Linked DNA regions of Homo sapiens. The protein of the gene in region 2 purifies or fractionates together with the protein of the main gene of each other region. This does not show direct contact. Each region holds a gene or a part of one and is shown on either strand. Other genes may lie near its edges.

Region 1 (3,500 bases), on a different chromosome or scaffold from region 2:
CTGCCCCCTCTTCTCAGTGCTTCTACCCGATCTGCTCTTCCTGCCTGCAGACCTGCAGGAACAGAGACCAAGGAAGGGTGGTGAGGTCATTCTGCCCCCCACACCCACAGACCCGGCCTTACATTTCCCACCACATCCCACCCCACCCCCTGCTGCGATCCACCCAGCTGGGTGTGAGTCAGGGGCCCTGGGGAGGTGGAGGGCTGCCTGCCTCCCCTTCACTCTGCTCCTCCCAGTGCAAACACCCAGGATTCAGCAGGGAGGAATGGCCAGGACAGGAGACACTGATAGATTGGGAGCTGGTGGGGCTGTCCCCGGGGCTTGGTCTGGCTGCAGTGGAATCTGCCTTTGGCCTTGTTCCAGGTGCTTTCAGATGCAGCCTGTGCCAGCAGGGTGAGGAGCTGGCCTGGGGAGTCCTGGGAGAAGTTTAGTTAGGGCTGGAGCAGCATGAGGGGCTGCAGAAGCAGGGGCCCAGTGGGGCTGGAGAGAGATGACCCGCTAGGGGCCTGTAGCTTTCCTGGGGCTGGGAGTTGTGGCCAGCCTGAGCTGGGAGCACCAGTGGGTCCAAGGGCACCCTGGACCTGCATCCCTGACCTCCCAAAGTGTTCCTGGGGCTCCCCCGACTCCTGTGGTGTGGCTGCCACGGAGCAGGGTGGCTGCTGGTCAGTGGGTAGCATAATGACAGGGTGAGACGACTCCACCCGGCCCTGACCCTGCTGAGGAATGTCTGAGCTCCAGCAGGGTCGTGACTTGTGGGTACAGATGGGCATGCCACCCACTCCCTGCCCACTGTCCATGAGACGCTCACCCTTACTTTTCTCCCTCTTCTTCAGGGGCATCTTCCTGGATACCATTGTCCCCAAGTATGAGGTGAACGGGGTGAAACCTCCCATTGGCCAAAGGACACGGCTCAGCAAGGGGGACATTGCCCAAGCCCGCAAGCTTTACAAGTGCCCAGGTCAGGGCAGAGAAGGGATGGGTGAGGGCGTGGAGGGCAGGGCCTGAGGGAGGCAGAGGCCAGGTGCCTGGTGCCACCAAGAAGGCTTAGGCTGCAAGTCTTAGAGAATGGTGTGGCGGGGGAGGGGACCCCATAGGAGGGGCAGTGTCCAAGTGAAGGAGGCCGCTGGGGGTAGGCTCAGGTGGGTGGTCAGAAGCCGAGCCGCCACCTTCTGAGGGTCTGTAGGGGCGGAAGTGGGGAGAACAGCAATCCTAGGAGAGGGAGGTGGCACGGAGCCCCACCAAGGGAGCTTGACCTTAGCTCTGGAACCCATATTGCCTTCACAAACAGGGCAGCACTGGGCTGGGAGGTAGGATGGCGTGTGCTATATGTGAGGTAGGGGGGTGGATCTTATAGGGGCAGGACCATTGCAGACACCCTCCCACTCCTCAGGCATTCTCCCCTCCCCCAGAGGATGCCAAGGTTCAGGGGTGGGTGAGCCAGAAGATGGGGGGATTTGGCGCCTGCAGCCCTGCCCTGTCATTTCCTTTCCTCACAGCCTGTGGAGAGACCCTGCAAGACAGCACAGGCAACTTCTCCTCCCCTGAATACCCCAATGGCTACTCTGCTCACATGCACTGCGTGTGGCGCATCTCTGTCACACCCGGGGAGAAGGTACGTGTGGGCTCAGCCTCTGAGCCTCCCCCTCCCCTGCGGGTCCCCATACCTCAGGGACTTCTCCCACAGTGGGGGTCAATATGGGTGCCAGCGACCTACCTGGCTACCGTAAATGTATCAAGTCCAGAGCGCTGATGGAGCACGGCTGTAGGAAGGGGCTCCTGGCATTCACCGCCTTCCCTGGCATCTCCCAATAATTATAAATTAGTGTTAATTTGCACATAGCACTTGCTGTGTAGGTCTATTTTGATTATCTAGTTCTTCTTGGGTGATTTTCCTACATCACCTCTTTTAGTTTTTACGGCTACCTCCACCTTTATTTTACAGATGAGGAAACTGAGGCACAGGGTGGTTAAGTAACTTGCCCAAGGTCACACAGCTAACAAGGACTGAGGTGGGACTGGAGCTCTTCTCAGGTCTGGGTTCCCTTGGATGAACTGCTCAGCCTGACGCTCAGCTCTCATCCGTCTCATCAGGGCTTGGGCCAGGGGCTCCTGAAGGGCTCTTCCCGATTCTGACAGGCTCTAGTCCTGGGAACAATTAAGGAATGATGCAGGCGCCTCCAGCAGGATGCTGCCTGGTGGGTCTCTCCTTCTCACCCATCCTTCCCCTTGCTCAGGCCAGGACCCTCCAGTCTTTGCTCTGTGGGCCTGATTTTCTGTGCCTGGCTCTCCACTGGCACTCTATTTCTCCTCCCTCTACCTGTCACCTGCTATATCAGTTCTGATCCATAGAGAAAGCTCAGCTCCACCTTCTGTCTTACCTTGTGGGGAAGTACCCAGTTCTCATACTTGCTGCCACGTGGGGCTGGCTTCGGGCATACTACGGGATCGGGTCAGAGCTGTCTCCATCTTCACAGTCTAGCTCGGATGTGACCTCCTTCAGGAAGCCTTCCCTGCTCGTTACTAATTGGTGGCAAGTAGGGTGGACACCGAGTGTGGGGAGGGCCCCCGAGCCTGTCCGGTCAGGTTTCCCACTGCATGGTTGATTAGCCCTGTTTGAATACCTAAGGTGATGAGAGGCTCACTACTTTTCAGAATAATTCATTCTGTTCTCTAGCCAGCTCTTTTTTTTTTTTTTTCTTGAGACAGAATCTCACTTTTTCACCCAAGGTGGAGTGCAGTGGCGCGATCTCAGCTCACTGCAACCTCTGCCGCCCAGGGTCAAGCGATACTCCCACCTCAGCCTCTGGAGTAGCTGGGACTGCAGATGTGCGCTACCATGCCCGGCAATTTTTTTTCTATTTTTGGTCGAGACAGGGTTTCGCCATGTTGCACAGGCTGGTCTCGAACTCCTGAGTTCAAGTGATCCTCCTGGCTCAGGCTTCCAAAGTGCTGGGATTACAGGCGTGAGCCACCGCATCTGGCCTGTAGCCAGCTCTTAATGTTACAACGTCTCTTCTTCTCCCTTAAGCCCCCCAGTTGCTCCAGTACTTTCCTCAAGAGCAATGCAGGATAACTCACTCCCTCTTTCCCATGTCAGCCCTCCTAATGTGGGGAGGCTACTCCCATCACTTCTTAGATCCATTCCCGGTCTTTTCACACAGACTCTGGACCTCCGCACCAACCCCAGACCTTCTGTGTCCATATTTTTATTGCTCCCAAGCTACAAGACTTTATTTTCCTTGATTGGGGCATGGTTCTTAATGTCATAGTGCAGCGTTGAGCTGGATTCAATTCTATTATTGATTGCATTGTTCATTTCGACATCTCAAGATCATTTTGAATCAGAATTTCACCATCCATCAGGTAGCCCTCCTCTTACCTCTGCCATGAGCTCCTTTGATAAGCATGACTTCTAGGTCTTCGTCCTGGCCTTTGATCAAAACATAGAACAGCACACAAACCAAAGAAGAACCAAGATTTCCCTCCAAATTGGCATTAAT
Region 2 (5,428 bases):
ATCATTTTAATAAATCTATATAGAATGGCTAAAACTATAAAACTTCAAGAAAAAACTGTAGAACATGTACACTTCACTGCATATATATATTATTTGCTTCTTTAAGGACTCTAAACATATTGAAATGTTGATAGCAGATTAGTTTTTGTATTGGTTGTCAATGCTTTCTGTATATCCTAGACTGGCAGACATTGGTAAAAATATTGAAGTTAGTGAGGCAAGGAAACCCACAATTGGATAGCAAAATACAGATATAAAATATGAGAAGACTGGAATAAAACCTACACTATTCAAGTGAAACTGTATGTGTCAATATGACTAACTTTTCAAGATAGATGAACAATAAATTAATAGATAAATAGATGATTAGGTAGATGAACAGGTAGATGAATAGACAGAGAGATAGATTAAATAAATGAATCAACAGAAATAGATATAGATACATACATACATGCATACAGACATATACAAACAGATACATAGTAGTTATTGGCATAGACAGAGGTATAGGCACAGGAACATTTGTTGACAAGAAAAGGAATGAGAAGCACTGGTCCTCCAACAGTAATGATGACATGTAGTGCCTGGTTTATGTGTGTGTGTGTGTGTGTGTGTGTGCGTGTGTGTGTGTGTGTGTTTATACTAAAGGTAACTAATTCACAGGGCACAGTTAATATTAGGAACAGTGTTTTCATTAGTTTCTAGTTTACCTGCCTTATTCAGTAGCATTTGTAATAATAAATAGCTAAAGTTTTTAAAAGACACACATACCTATTACTTTTCCAAATGAGAAATAGAATACATTTCTGAAAACAAAATAAGAGCTTACTTGAGCAGTTCACTTCTGGATCCCATCTTCCATTTATGCAGACTGTGTGTATCCATCCTTCTTTTCCTCTACATCTGTACCTTATGTTAGAATTATGATCGAATTCCTTCTTGTTTTTTAAATGTTCCTCAAGTATAATTAAATTTGATGATTTGCACTTCTTAAGTTTATCTATTGCTATAAAATAAATATATTTTTATGAAAATTCAAATGATAGGAATCAAACCAACTATTACATAAAAATAGTTATAAAGTAAATAGTATTAGCATGGTAAAATTATGACTTAATCATTATAAATTTCACCAACCAAGTTATTCCTGATCACATTGCATCAAAATGCTATTATGTCAAAATATAAGCCCTGTATTCTGTCGCTGAAATGTTAGAGATACCTATCAGAAGACATTTTATTCTTTGGGAAATACAAAATATCATTGGATATTTCATTGGATAAATAAGTATGATTGGACATTAGGACTCTTAGAATTCAGGACCCAGGAAAACTTTAGGAAAAATCTCAGTTTAGAGAAAAGTGAATGAGGGTCCCCAAGATCCTCCCGGTTAGTCATCAAAGAGGCAAAATGATTTTAAAGATTGTACATCTCAAGTCACACTGTAAGTGAATCACCTTGCCTTCTTGCTGATCAAGACATGAGATTTACAGTGTGAAGTCCGTCAATGAGATTTACGTCCTGACTCAGTCCCTGACTACCTCATGCCACTCAGCTATACCACTGATGTAGAGGGCCTGTGGCCCACCAACCCTGCAGCACATTCACTTATTTTGGCTGATATGGAACAAACTGAAAAATTATCACTTTTGGAAGCTTTAAGAGAGAAAAGAATCCTATGGGAGAGTAGTAAGTAGGTATTTTGTCAACTTTGTTTCTTTGCTTCTCAGTGCCTAAAAAGGAATACCATACAATAACAATAATATTTATATTTTATATAAAACTGTTATAATTTCTCAGTAATTAGTACTCATATTTAATCATATGATAATTTTTTAATATTTTTGTTTTTTAAAGAAAGAGTCTTACTCTGTTGCCCAGGCTGGAATGCACAATAGAGCTCACTGCAATCTCGAATTCCTGGCCTTAAGCAATCATTCCTCCTCAGCCTCCCAAGTAGCTGGATTACAGGCATGCACCACCACACCTTAACTAATTACAAAATTTTTTTTATAGAGATGGGCTTTTGCTATATTGCCCACACTAGTGTCTACCTCCTGGCCTCAAGCAATCTTCTTGCCTTGGCCTCCTGAAGTGTTGAGGTTATAGGCGTGAGCAACCACCCTGGCCTCACATGACAATTTTTGTAAGTAAAATGTTGCTTCACACTTTTAAATATAAACAATACTGTTATCAGACGCAGAAAGATTCATAAAATTATATTACTAGCTTTATTTTTTCTTTCTAGACACATATTGAATTATAAGCAATATGCAAAAGATTGGTCTCATATTGAAGACTGGAAATGTTGAGGCATATCTGTAAATTTCAAAAATATAGTTGCAATTATTGTTGTTACAATAAAAATATTAAACTTTGTTAAATGTTGATTTAAGAAGGGTATTCTCACCCACACACTGGGGAAGTTGGGTCCATACTCCATGAATACACGTAATTGATCTGTGTCCAATCATTGTAAATGATTCTGAGCAATTGAATTCCACTGAATCTCCATAGTAATAAGGAGGGGAAGAAAGCTGGGCCCAGCCATGTTCAAGTTCAGGTATATCTCCACAGGTACTCTCCTCCACTATGTAAATTTTACAAAAAAAGTTTATTGTGAAAACATGATGTATGTGTTTTAGATACAAAATACAAAAGTTTTGACAAGTTTAAATATTAATATTTTATACATTACCAATACACACTGGTAAAGTTGTCCACTCTCCATCAACACATTGAATTTTATTAGGTCCCTTCATTAGAAATCTAGGATTGCAATAATATTCCACCACTTCACTGTGTCCATATTCTTCTTTCGTTTTTTCCTTAACATTCCCATTGAGGAGTTCAGGAGGTGGACCACATGATTGTACTTGCTCTATAGTAGAAATACTATGTAAATAATGGTTAAATTGTCTGTTTTACAATATAAAAATTCAGTAAAATGGAAAGATTTTCTTCTTTTATTCATGTATTCTTCATTATGTAACTTATTATAGCATCCTAAACAATCAAGAATGGTGTTCATATTGTATTACTTATACTAAATTGTCATATTGAAGGTATATTAAAATGTTAAAATATGCTCAGACTTCTAGATATCTTAAAGATGCAAGAAAACCAATTAGCAAATGTGGTTATGAAAATCATGTTAATTTTTACATTTCATGGAAACATTTTATCATAACATTTTGGAAAAATATCATAACTGAGGCAAGCATTTGATCAACATAAAGTTTGACTAATCAATACAAGCAACTGAATTGAATATAAGCTGCTTAAATATTGTTTAGACACACCCGGTGAAACTTAAGTTGCAGCCCACACTATATAAAATGTCCAGAATGGATGTTGACATTTCAAGCAAAATGAAAATTAACAAAGAAATCCCTCCATTGTCAGCCACTAGTATGGTTTAAATGTTTGTCACCTCCAACCCCATGTTGAAACTTCATCCCCAGTGTTTCAGGTGGGGTCTAATGGGAGATGTTTGGATCATGGGTATGGATCTCTCATGAACAGATGAATGCCCCCTCTCAGGGTGAGTTCTCACTCTATTAGCTCCTGGAAGAGCTGGTTCTTAAAAAGAGCCTGTCACTGCCCTGCTCTCTCTCTTGCTTCCTCTCTCATCATGTGTTCTCTGGACACAGTGGCTCCTCTTCCCTTTCTACCAGCATTCTGTGGCTCTCACTGAATGCAGATGCCCGATCTTGAATTTTATAGTCATGAGTATAGTGAGCCAAATAAAACATTTTTACAAATCATCCAGACTCAGTTATTCCTTTATAGAAACATAAACCTAAAGTAGACTAAGACCGACAACACCTGTGTGTCTGGGAATACTTCCAGCACATCGTTCAAGAAACAGTGGAGATTAACTTAAGTGACTGAATCTCAGGTATTCAGTACTCAATACATGTCCTTCACAGGCAAATATTTGACTTAATTCATTAGATTACAGGCAATGGGAGCCCAAACAAAATTAATAAGAAAAAAGTTGGTATTCAAAGTTCTAATTCTTATTTCAGCAATTGTAAGATAAGCATTCACCTTTACATATTGGGAGGTCAGGAGACAATCCAAAGTGGTAGCACTGAACGGAATTAGGTCCAACTATTGTAAATCCTGGTTTGCAGGAGAATTTCAACACCTCTCCAACTTTATACTGGTCTTTCTTGCGATCAGGAACTAAGTGTACATCTATTTTAGGAAGTTCGCATTCTCTTTCTTGAAAAAGGTAAAATAATTTCATGAGAATATATAATTAATCATTGCCAAAGTTAATTTTACATATGCCACAATAAAGTGAGGTTGATATTGGGTCATACAGAGGGGCATCAGATAAATCCTTTTCCCTGTAAAGAATGCTACATATTATGTTTTATATGCTGTCTAAATTGAAATGGAACTTTATTATAAATGTTATGGTATTGAAATATATCTGTTCTAAAAATTAATTTGTAAATTCAACTTATTTACAATGAATCTAGTTTTAATCACTGACATTAATGAAATTTAATATTACTTTTTTTACTCAAAACATGAAATTACTCTCTCATATTAAAAAAGAAAAGTGCATATAGACCAGAATTGGGGCTTTTTGAAAACAAGATGACTGACTAAGGAGTTTGGACACAAGTTCTCCTCAGAAAGAAGAACCAAAGTTACAGGTAAATGATCATAACTTGAAAAATATTTAAGAGAGGGTGCAGGAGCGTCATAGAGAAACCATGGAGAGAAGCCAAAGCATGGAAAAAGACAGAAGCAAGAGCCTGACAAAGGTTGACTAGGACCCTGTGGGACCTCATAGAAAGTGTAGGTAGGAGTCTTCTGGGCTCCCTGCAGCTCACCGTGTGGATCCAAGCCATCAGAGAGCTCTTCTGTCTTCGTGAACACACACACTGGTGTGAGTGGAGATTTGGGAACTTCTTGAGGGCATTACACCAAACTACTAGTTGAATAGGGTCATCTGCCTTCCCCTTGGGCCTGAGCTGCAGTGGTAGGTTTCATGCCTGCAGTGCACTCATGTGGGGACTGTTTCCTACCCAGGAACCTCAGCCCTCTGTCCCCATAACACCAGAGCCGCACAAATATTCCCTGTCACCTGCTTGGATGTGGCAGTCACCCATAGCTGGCTGGACCCAAAGGAGTTACAGCATTCCCAATAGTTTAACCACCAGGGAGGCTATTCCTAATGGAAAGTGCAACAAAGGAACACCCCTTGTGGCAAAGAAGACTGTAGCATTCACTTTCCTGTGTGCAAGAGCAACCTGCTTGTGGGCTGAAAATGACTACGCCACTTCCAGCAGACACGCAGACGCGGTGTTTGGCTCTGCAAGGGAGGAGTATAGATCCATCCCAGGAGCCCAATGGTCCCAGCGCTTGGGCACGGATGTAGAGAGGGGAACATGTCCCGTGGATCCA
Region 3 (3,500 bases), on a different chromosome or scaffold from region 2:
TGGCACCTTTAATCGTCTTTGATATTTCTGAAGAACCGAATTGTCCAGAAAACCCCAGTGCTACAAGATGTCCAGTGCCAAAACCAAGATCAAAAAGCAACCTCAGACCAATACCCAGAGATTCTCACATTAAAGAGCAAAGTCAACAGAAAATCAGCCCAGCAGCCGTAGGAGAGGAGTCATCCCCAGGCCGGCCCCAGTCTCTGCTGGACAACGCTAGCACCTCAGACAGTCAGGCAGTGATGAACATTATGAACACAGAACAAAGCCAAAATAGTATTGTTTCCAGAATTAAAGTGTTTGAGGGTCAGACAAACATAGAAACCTCAGGACTGCCCAAGAAACCAGAAATTACTCCACGTTCACTTCCTCCAAAGCCTACTGTTTCCTCAGGGAAACCTTCTGTAGCTCCCAAACCAGCTGCTAACAGAGCTTCTGGAGAGTGGGACTCTGGGACTGAGAACAGACTCAAGGTGACCTCCAAGGAAGGACTCACCCCATACCCTCCCCTGCAAGAAGCGGGAAGCATCCCAGTAACCAAACCTGAATTGCCAAAGAAACCAAACCCTGGCCTTATACGAAGTGTTAATCCTGAGATTCCGGGAAGAGGGCCCCTGGCTGAGAGCTCTGATAGTGGGAAGAAAGTGCCAACTCCTGCCCCGCGGCCTTTGCTGCTGAAGAAATCTGTTTCCTCAGAAAACCCCACCTACCCTTCAGCTCCACTGAAACCTGTCACTGTTCCTCCCCGACTCGCAGGGGCATCACAAGCCAAAGCATACAAGTCACTGGGAGAAGGGCCCCCAGCCAACCCCCCAGTTCCAGTTCTGCAGAGCAAGCCCTTGGTGGACATCGATCTCATCAGCTTTGATGATGATGTTTTGCCCACCCCATCGGGGAACCTGGCTGAAGAATCTGTTGGTTCAGAGATGGTTCTAGGTGAGTGAAAAATCAGCAGTGGAGGGGAATCTAAACTCATGATAGGGTATTTTAAATGGCACTTGCTGTTTTAGTTTCTGGTACATAAGTTATTGAGGTGTGTGTATACAAGTATGTGCACATGCATGTGTGTGTATAGAAACAGAGGAATGAACAGACAGATCAAGAAACATGGGAGCTATGTGGGGAATGGAGACAGGGAGGGAAGGGAAAATATGGGATGGGGGTAATGGAGTCAGAAATGGGGAGACACATGCATCGATTACTATTATATGAGCCAGAAGTAAGCAGACTGGGGCTAGGAGCTAAACTATAATAGGTTGTGGGGCTGGCTCCCCTTACTCTTGGCAGATAGAAGTTCAGACTTCACATTGAAAGGATCCAGGGAGGTTATGGAACATGTAGAAGGATGCAGAGGAAGCTTCTCTTAGATGGGAAGTCATGCAGTGGCCCCAGAGGGGCTCCTCAGATGAAATGGGCCTCAGCTGGGAGTGCTGGGAGAGGGGCCAGCTCCAGGGGAGGACTCGAAAATGTACGGAATGAGGACCCAGCCACATGTTGCAAAGTTGTTCCTTTAATCTTCACAGAACATCTTCCCTTGAGAGTGAAAAGTTTTGTAAATAAAATACAACAGATACAAGTTAGCTGCCAAGATCAGTACAATTAAATATCCCAGAAGGCAGAGAGTATGTTTTCTTTCCTCTAACTGTTCCGTTGGAGAGTGTGATGGTAAAGCTTATCTTTGATTTGTCAAACTAAGCTGCTCTACTTGTCATTGATAAGATTTCTTTTACTGCTGTTGACTTATTTGGGTGGAATTTGTGAACATATAAACTTAATAGAATTTTCAAAAGCTTAACTGTCACTGTATAAATGTTTAACATGCATCAAAATAGTACAGGCTCTGTGATTTCACAGCCACATTCTGCATAGCACAGGTGTGTTTAAAATGAAAACAAACATACACATTATTAAATATTCATCATGCACAGAACATTGTAACTGACACACAACATTTTAGCGTATAAACTAAAAGACATACATGGCTTTTGTCCATAAAGGGTGGAAGGAAAAACATTTGAATATATTAAGCTTCTGCAGTGTACCTAATGCTCTGCTAAATACTGAGACATACATTATTTTATTTAATAATTGCAACAACCGTCTGTGAGTTATCATTGGCCTAAGTTTGCAAATGAAGACAGTGAGACTGAGAGAGATCTATGGATCACTTGCCCAGTGTCATAAAACAATTGTTCAAGTCAGGATTCAAACTTAGTGTTTTTATTCTAAGCCTAGTTTATTTTTCACTGTATAATGTTGCTACCCAATATTTTCATGAATCCTTAACCAGGCAACACTTTAAAAACTTTTCAAGTCTTTGATAATACCATTTTCTTATATAAACCTTTTTGGTATTAACAAGATTCAGAGAAGGACAGGGATAGATAAACCCAACAGCAGCAAGCTAAAGAAATATTACCTTTTGTAGAACTTGCTAGTTTCTATGGGGATGGCAACTCAACTAATAATTGCTGAGAATTTATTTTGTATCATCTAGCAGATAATTATAGTCATCTTCAAAAAGGAAGGTCAACAATATACTTTAAGCATGAATACAGTCTCATGCTTCATACTCAGCCTTTTCCATTTCTTGATTTCTACCACTTCATTGAACAACATTTAATTATTGGGGCGTCTTTTAGCAAAGTGTGTAATTTGCTTGTGCTATCTGACTTTAACCATTGCTCTGGACTATGGGGTTATACTGAGCTGAATACTATCTTCTTTCTAAATCTTCTTTCTTCCTATATTTTGCAACTCACTATTGACACCATCACACACACACCAGCCTTTCCTGGAGAAACCCAGAGATCATCCTTGAGTCTTCTCACCGTGTCACACAGTGGCTAGCTGTTCAGATTTGGAGTCTGCCAGGGTCTACCATATTTGTTACATGACCTTGGGCAATTTTCTTAACCTCACAGTGCCTCTGTTTCCTCATTTGTTTAGACGTAATACTACTCCTCACCTAGGGTATTGCAAGGGTTAAATGTGATTATGCAGGAAAGCCCTATGATCATTAATTAGTAGTTATTATTGTTACTTCTCTGCCTTCACATCTAATTAGTTACCAACTCCTGCTGGTTTTACCTTCCAAATAGTTCTTGACTCTGCCTCTCCTTTTCATCCTTCCCTCTTCTGCCCCACTTTAGGCCTTTACACTCTGATGACTGCAGTGGCCTCCCAAATTGAGCCCACTCAGACAATCCTATCACAATCCATACTGTGGCTACCTAGGGGGAGTTTCTAGAATGCACACTGGTGCTTTTTGCCTCCCTACTTATGCCCTCCAAAGGCCTTCAGGATCACCTCTGAATGCCTTGACCTGTGGAGGGATTTTTGTTTGCTTTTTGATTTGGGGCTTTGTGACTTTTTGGTGGTATTTTGGTAGCATTGTCATTGTAAATAAAGGTTTATGGTCCTGGGAAACCTTGCCTAATCATCCAGACACCAGGCAGAAACTGGGAGAGGAACACAGGAGAAAGAAGAGAAACTTACAA
Region 4 (3,500 bases), on a different chromosome or scaffold from region 2:
TTCAACCAAACTCAGGTGCAAAATATTAAAAAAAAAAAAAAGAAAGAAAGCATCTGTAGTGAACACATACAGGCTTTTCTCTTGTCATTATTCCCTAAACAATATAGTATAACAGATTGGGCCTGTGCTGCTGGGCTGACACCTGTGCTGCCGGCCTCCTCTGAAGGTGCATATCACTCTCCCAAGCTCAGGTCTGCGCATAACAACCCTGGGCTCACACCTCCCACATGTTGTGAATGCCTCCCAGCCCATCCGGGGAGGAGCTCACAGTCAGCAGGGAGTCCTTCCAGATCACCTGCGCGTCCCTCCTCTTCCTTCTTGCCTGGGACCATCAGTCTCCTCGCCCTCTGCTAGCTGACTCGCCATGAGGCTGTCACTTGGCTTTCCTCCTGGCATGTAAACTCCCCAGGGACAGGGCCTGTGGCTGGTCATCTTTGTCACCCTAACCCACACACAGCCCACAGAAGTATCCAGTAAACCATACTGATCAAATCCCAGACTGACTGGTAGATTGGGCCCCTCTGACATGCAAGAGGCAGCCCAAAAGGAGCAGGCGCTCAGCTGCCGCGTGGAACCCCATGCAGAGCCCCAGCTGCCTGGGAGGAGGGCCCAGTACCTTGATGGTTGCCAGACTCAGGAGGCTGCAGGATTTGGGAAGCAGGGAAGTGAGGTGATTCGTGTGGACGATCAGCACCTGTGTGGAGAGATGTGCGGCCATGCTGGGCTGAGGAAGAGCAGCAGGCAGGGCAGGCTAAGGGCGTGGGAGCCAGCCCAGCGCCGTGCCACGCCCCACCATCTTGCTCTCCCAGACACCACCACGGGGATGCGGGTCAGTATCATGAACTCTCCCAATGGGGAATCTAATGCCCTTCCTTAAAACCTGGATCTTCAAGGGTGAAAGAGACCTTAGAGGTCTACATCTTCCTTCCATCTGAGAAGGGATCCCCCTGCAGCCATCCTGATCATAACCTTCCCAGCACCAGCGTCTTCACGTGGAAAATAGAGAATAATAAAGTGCTTGCCTCCCAGGGCTGCCATGATGTTAAATAAAAGCTCATGCGCAAAACTTCCAGGGCTGGCAGAGGGGCCAGGGCTCAGTCCAGGTCATCTACTGCTATTTTTCCTTTTCTTTTTTTTTTTTTTTGAGACCAACTCTTGCTCTGTCGCCCAAGCTGGAGTGCAGTGGTGTGATCTCAGCTCACTGCAACCTCCGCCTCCCAGGTTCAAGCAATTCTCCTGTCTCGCCCTCCCGAGTAGCTGGGACTACAGGCGCATGCCACCACACCCAGCTGATTTTTTTTTTATTTTTGGTAGAGACCGGGTTTCACCATGGTAGCCAGGATGGTCTTGATCTCCTGACCTCGTGATCTGCCCACCTCGGCCTCCCGAAGTGCTGGGATTACAGGCATGAGCCACCGCACCCGGCCAATCTACTGCATTTTTCTTAGGCATTGACTGCGGCCCAACACTTCCAGCACAGACTGGGCGTGGTGGCTCACACCTGTAATCCCAGCACTTTGGCAGGCTAAGGCAGGTGGATCACTTGAGGTCAGGAGTTCGAGACCAGCCTGGCCAACATGGCAAAACCTCATCTCTAAAAATACAAAAATTAGTTGGGCATGGTGGTGGGCGCCTATAATCCCAGCTACTCAGGAGGCTGAGGCAGGAGAATTGCTTGAACCCAGGAGGCGGAGGTTTCAGTGAGCTGAGATTGCACCACTGCACTCCAGCCTGGGTGACAGAGCAGAGCGTCCGTCTTCAAAAAAAAAAAAAAACAAACAAAACTTCCAGCGCCAAGGAGCTCACTACTCTGTTGGCAGGGAACACTTTTTTTTTTTTTTTTTTTTGCATATTCTCATTTAGATACTTCACTTAGAGCGCTTCTACCCATCTGCATTCAAAGCTGCAATGCTCTGCTGAAAAATCATTCACTCCCCTCTGAATCTCCCCTGGGTGACCAGAATAAAAGGCGTGAGTTTCTATTATTACTAACACCGGGGTTCATAAGCCTTTACTACGTGGTAGGCATGTACACTCAGTATATTTCTATCTCTATCTAGCTATCTACCACTCATTTAATTCTCACAATACCTCAGGAAGGAGAACTATGAATGTCTTCATTTCACAGGGGAAGAAACTGAGAAGTAAGAGTTTAAGGAAGTTGCCCAAGTCATGAAGCCAGTGAGGGCAGAGTTAGAATGTGACACAGGAAGGTCCAACCCCAAAGCCTACTCTCCTATCTGTGAAAACACCTGCTGCAGGCCAAGAGCATAAGAAGCAGAGAGAAAGGAGGTGTCTACGCCGGGAAGACAGCTCCTCAAAGTCCCTTGTGGGTTCAAACAAGCAGACATGCAACAAGAAAGTCTCTGAAGATGAAGCTCCATCTTACCTTCTTCTGCAGAACTTTGCATGTTGCAAAAGCTCCAAATGGAATCTAAGATAAGATAAAGAAGAGTAAGTGTCTCCCCTCCTGCCAGTTTTTAGCTTGTTCTCTGAGTGGCATTCACGTGAGGAAGAGACAGGCAGGAGGTGAACAAGGGCAAAACGCCACAGCAGGTGGCAGTGCTGAGCCCAGGGGCAAGGCTGGCAAGCAGTGGTGTTGGGGATGTGGCCAGCCCTTCCCTCGGTCAGCTGGCAGGAGACTGCCCTGCCCCACCCACCCTGTCCCCATTGTGAACCCCTTCAGGGGCTGGAGAATGCCAGGCCCTTCCAGCAATGTAGGAGTCTATGGGTACATTTTCTACCTAGACTCCTTGACTCTTGGAGACTACGTTATATTGAGGCCAAAGGATCATCTTCAATTATTTTGGACGAGAACAAAATCTAAGGAAACATCTCGTGACTAGAGCTTCTGGCCTTTCTAAAGCCCCAGTCCACCTCTGTCTTTCCTAGGGACACAAGATCCAAGAAAACGGGACAGATCCAATTCACAGCCCAACACTATCCTCAGTTTACCTCTGAGAGCTCACATTTAGAGATGTCGAGAATGTCATCTGCCCCAGCTTCTTTTGCCTAAGGATAAAAAGAATTTTTAAAAAGTATTAAGACAAAACACCTTTGCAGAGTGGACAAGCCAGGCAAAGAACATAAATGTAAGCAGCTGCAAAGGACCATAGACACTATCTGGTTCCACTGGTCCATTTGGCAGGTGAACCAATGACCCCTGCTTTCCCAGAGCTTGAGGCCCAGAGGGATGAGGAACTGAAAAGCAATGACAGTGCGCTCAGTCTACAGGGGAGAAGCACCCTTGGCAGGGGGCCTCATCTGTTGGGTCTAAGTCAAATATTTCTTCTGTGGGTGGGGGAGGCAGATGGGAAGGAGCACGGCTTGTTGGGGGCAGTGCGGAGGCCTACTCCATGGGGACCGAGGAGGAGATGGGATAGAGTTAGAGGAAACCCACTTTCCCTCACCAAACACATCTGGTACTCCAGGCGTTTCCGAGCCTCCTCACTGGGTTTCCGCTTCCGGAAGAAGAGCGGCATCCTTCCCTTTTCCCAGAG

What was found. The genes of interacting proteins can lie anywhere in the genome.
Region 1: the proteins of CFH (region 2) and BMP1 purify together in Homo sapiens (affinity purification with mass spectrometry, with the first as the bait; one large-scale study listed by BioGRID). This does not show direct contact.
Region 3: the proteins of CFH (region 2) and SH3D19 purify together in Homo sapiens (affinity purification with mass spectrometry, with the first as the bait; one large-scale study listed by BioGRID). This does not show direct contact.
Region 4: the proteins of CFH (region 2) and LRSAM1 purify together in Homo sapiens (affinity purification with mass spectrometry, with the first as the bait; one large-scale study listed by BioGRID). This does not show direct contact.

What each region holds. Positions count from the first base shown.
Region 1 is NC_000008.11:22,178,872-22,182,371, forward strand, and holds part of BMP1 (bone morphogenetic protein 1 isoform 3 precursor), read left to right. Parts: intron 1-833; coding exon 834-958; intron 959-1,496; coding exon 1,497-1,612; intron 1,613-3,500. UniProt on the Homo sapiens protein: Metalloprotease that plays key roles in regulating the formation of the extracellular matrix (ECM) via processing of various precursor proteins into mature functional enzymes or structural proteins.
Region 2 is NC_000001.11:196,723,924-196,729,351, reverse strand, and holds part of CFH (complement factor H isoform a precursor), read right to left. Parts: intron 4,232-5,428; coding exon 4,055-4,231; intron 2,883-4,054; coding exon 2,700-2,882; intron 2,592-2,699; coding exon 2,412-2,591; intron 1,007-2,411; coding exon 830-1,006; intron 1-829. UniProt on the Homo sapiens protein: Glycoprotein that plays an essential role in maintaining a well-balanced immune response by modulating complement activation.
Region 3 is NC_000004.12:151,172,106-151,175,605, reverse strand, and holds part of SH3D19 (SH3 domain-containing protein 19), read left to right. Parts: coding exon 1-936; intron 937-1,494; exon of another isoform or gene 1,495-3,500. UniProt on the Homo sapiens protein: May play a role in regulating A disintegrin and metalloproteases (ADAMs) in the signaling of EGFR-ligand shedding. May be involved in suppression of Ras-induced cellular transformation and Ras-mediated activation of ELK1.
Region 4 is NC_000009.12:127,454,510-127,458,009, reverse strand, and holds part of LRSAM1 (E3 ubiquitin-protein ligase LRSAM1), read right to left. Parts: 5' UTR 3,483-3,500; coding exon 3,411-3,482; intron 3,013-3,410; coding exon 2,956-3,012; intron 2,435-2,955; coding exon 2,390-2,434; intron 695-2,389; coding exon 617-694; intron 1-616.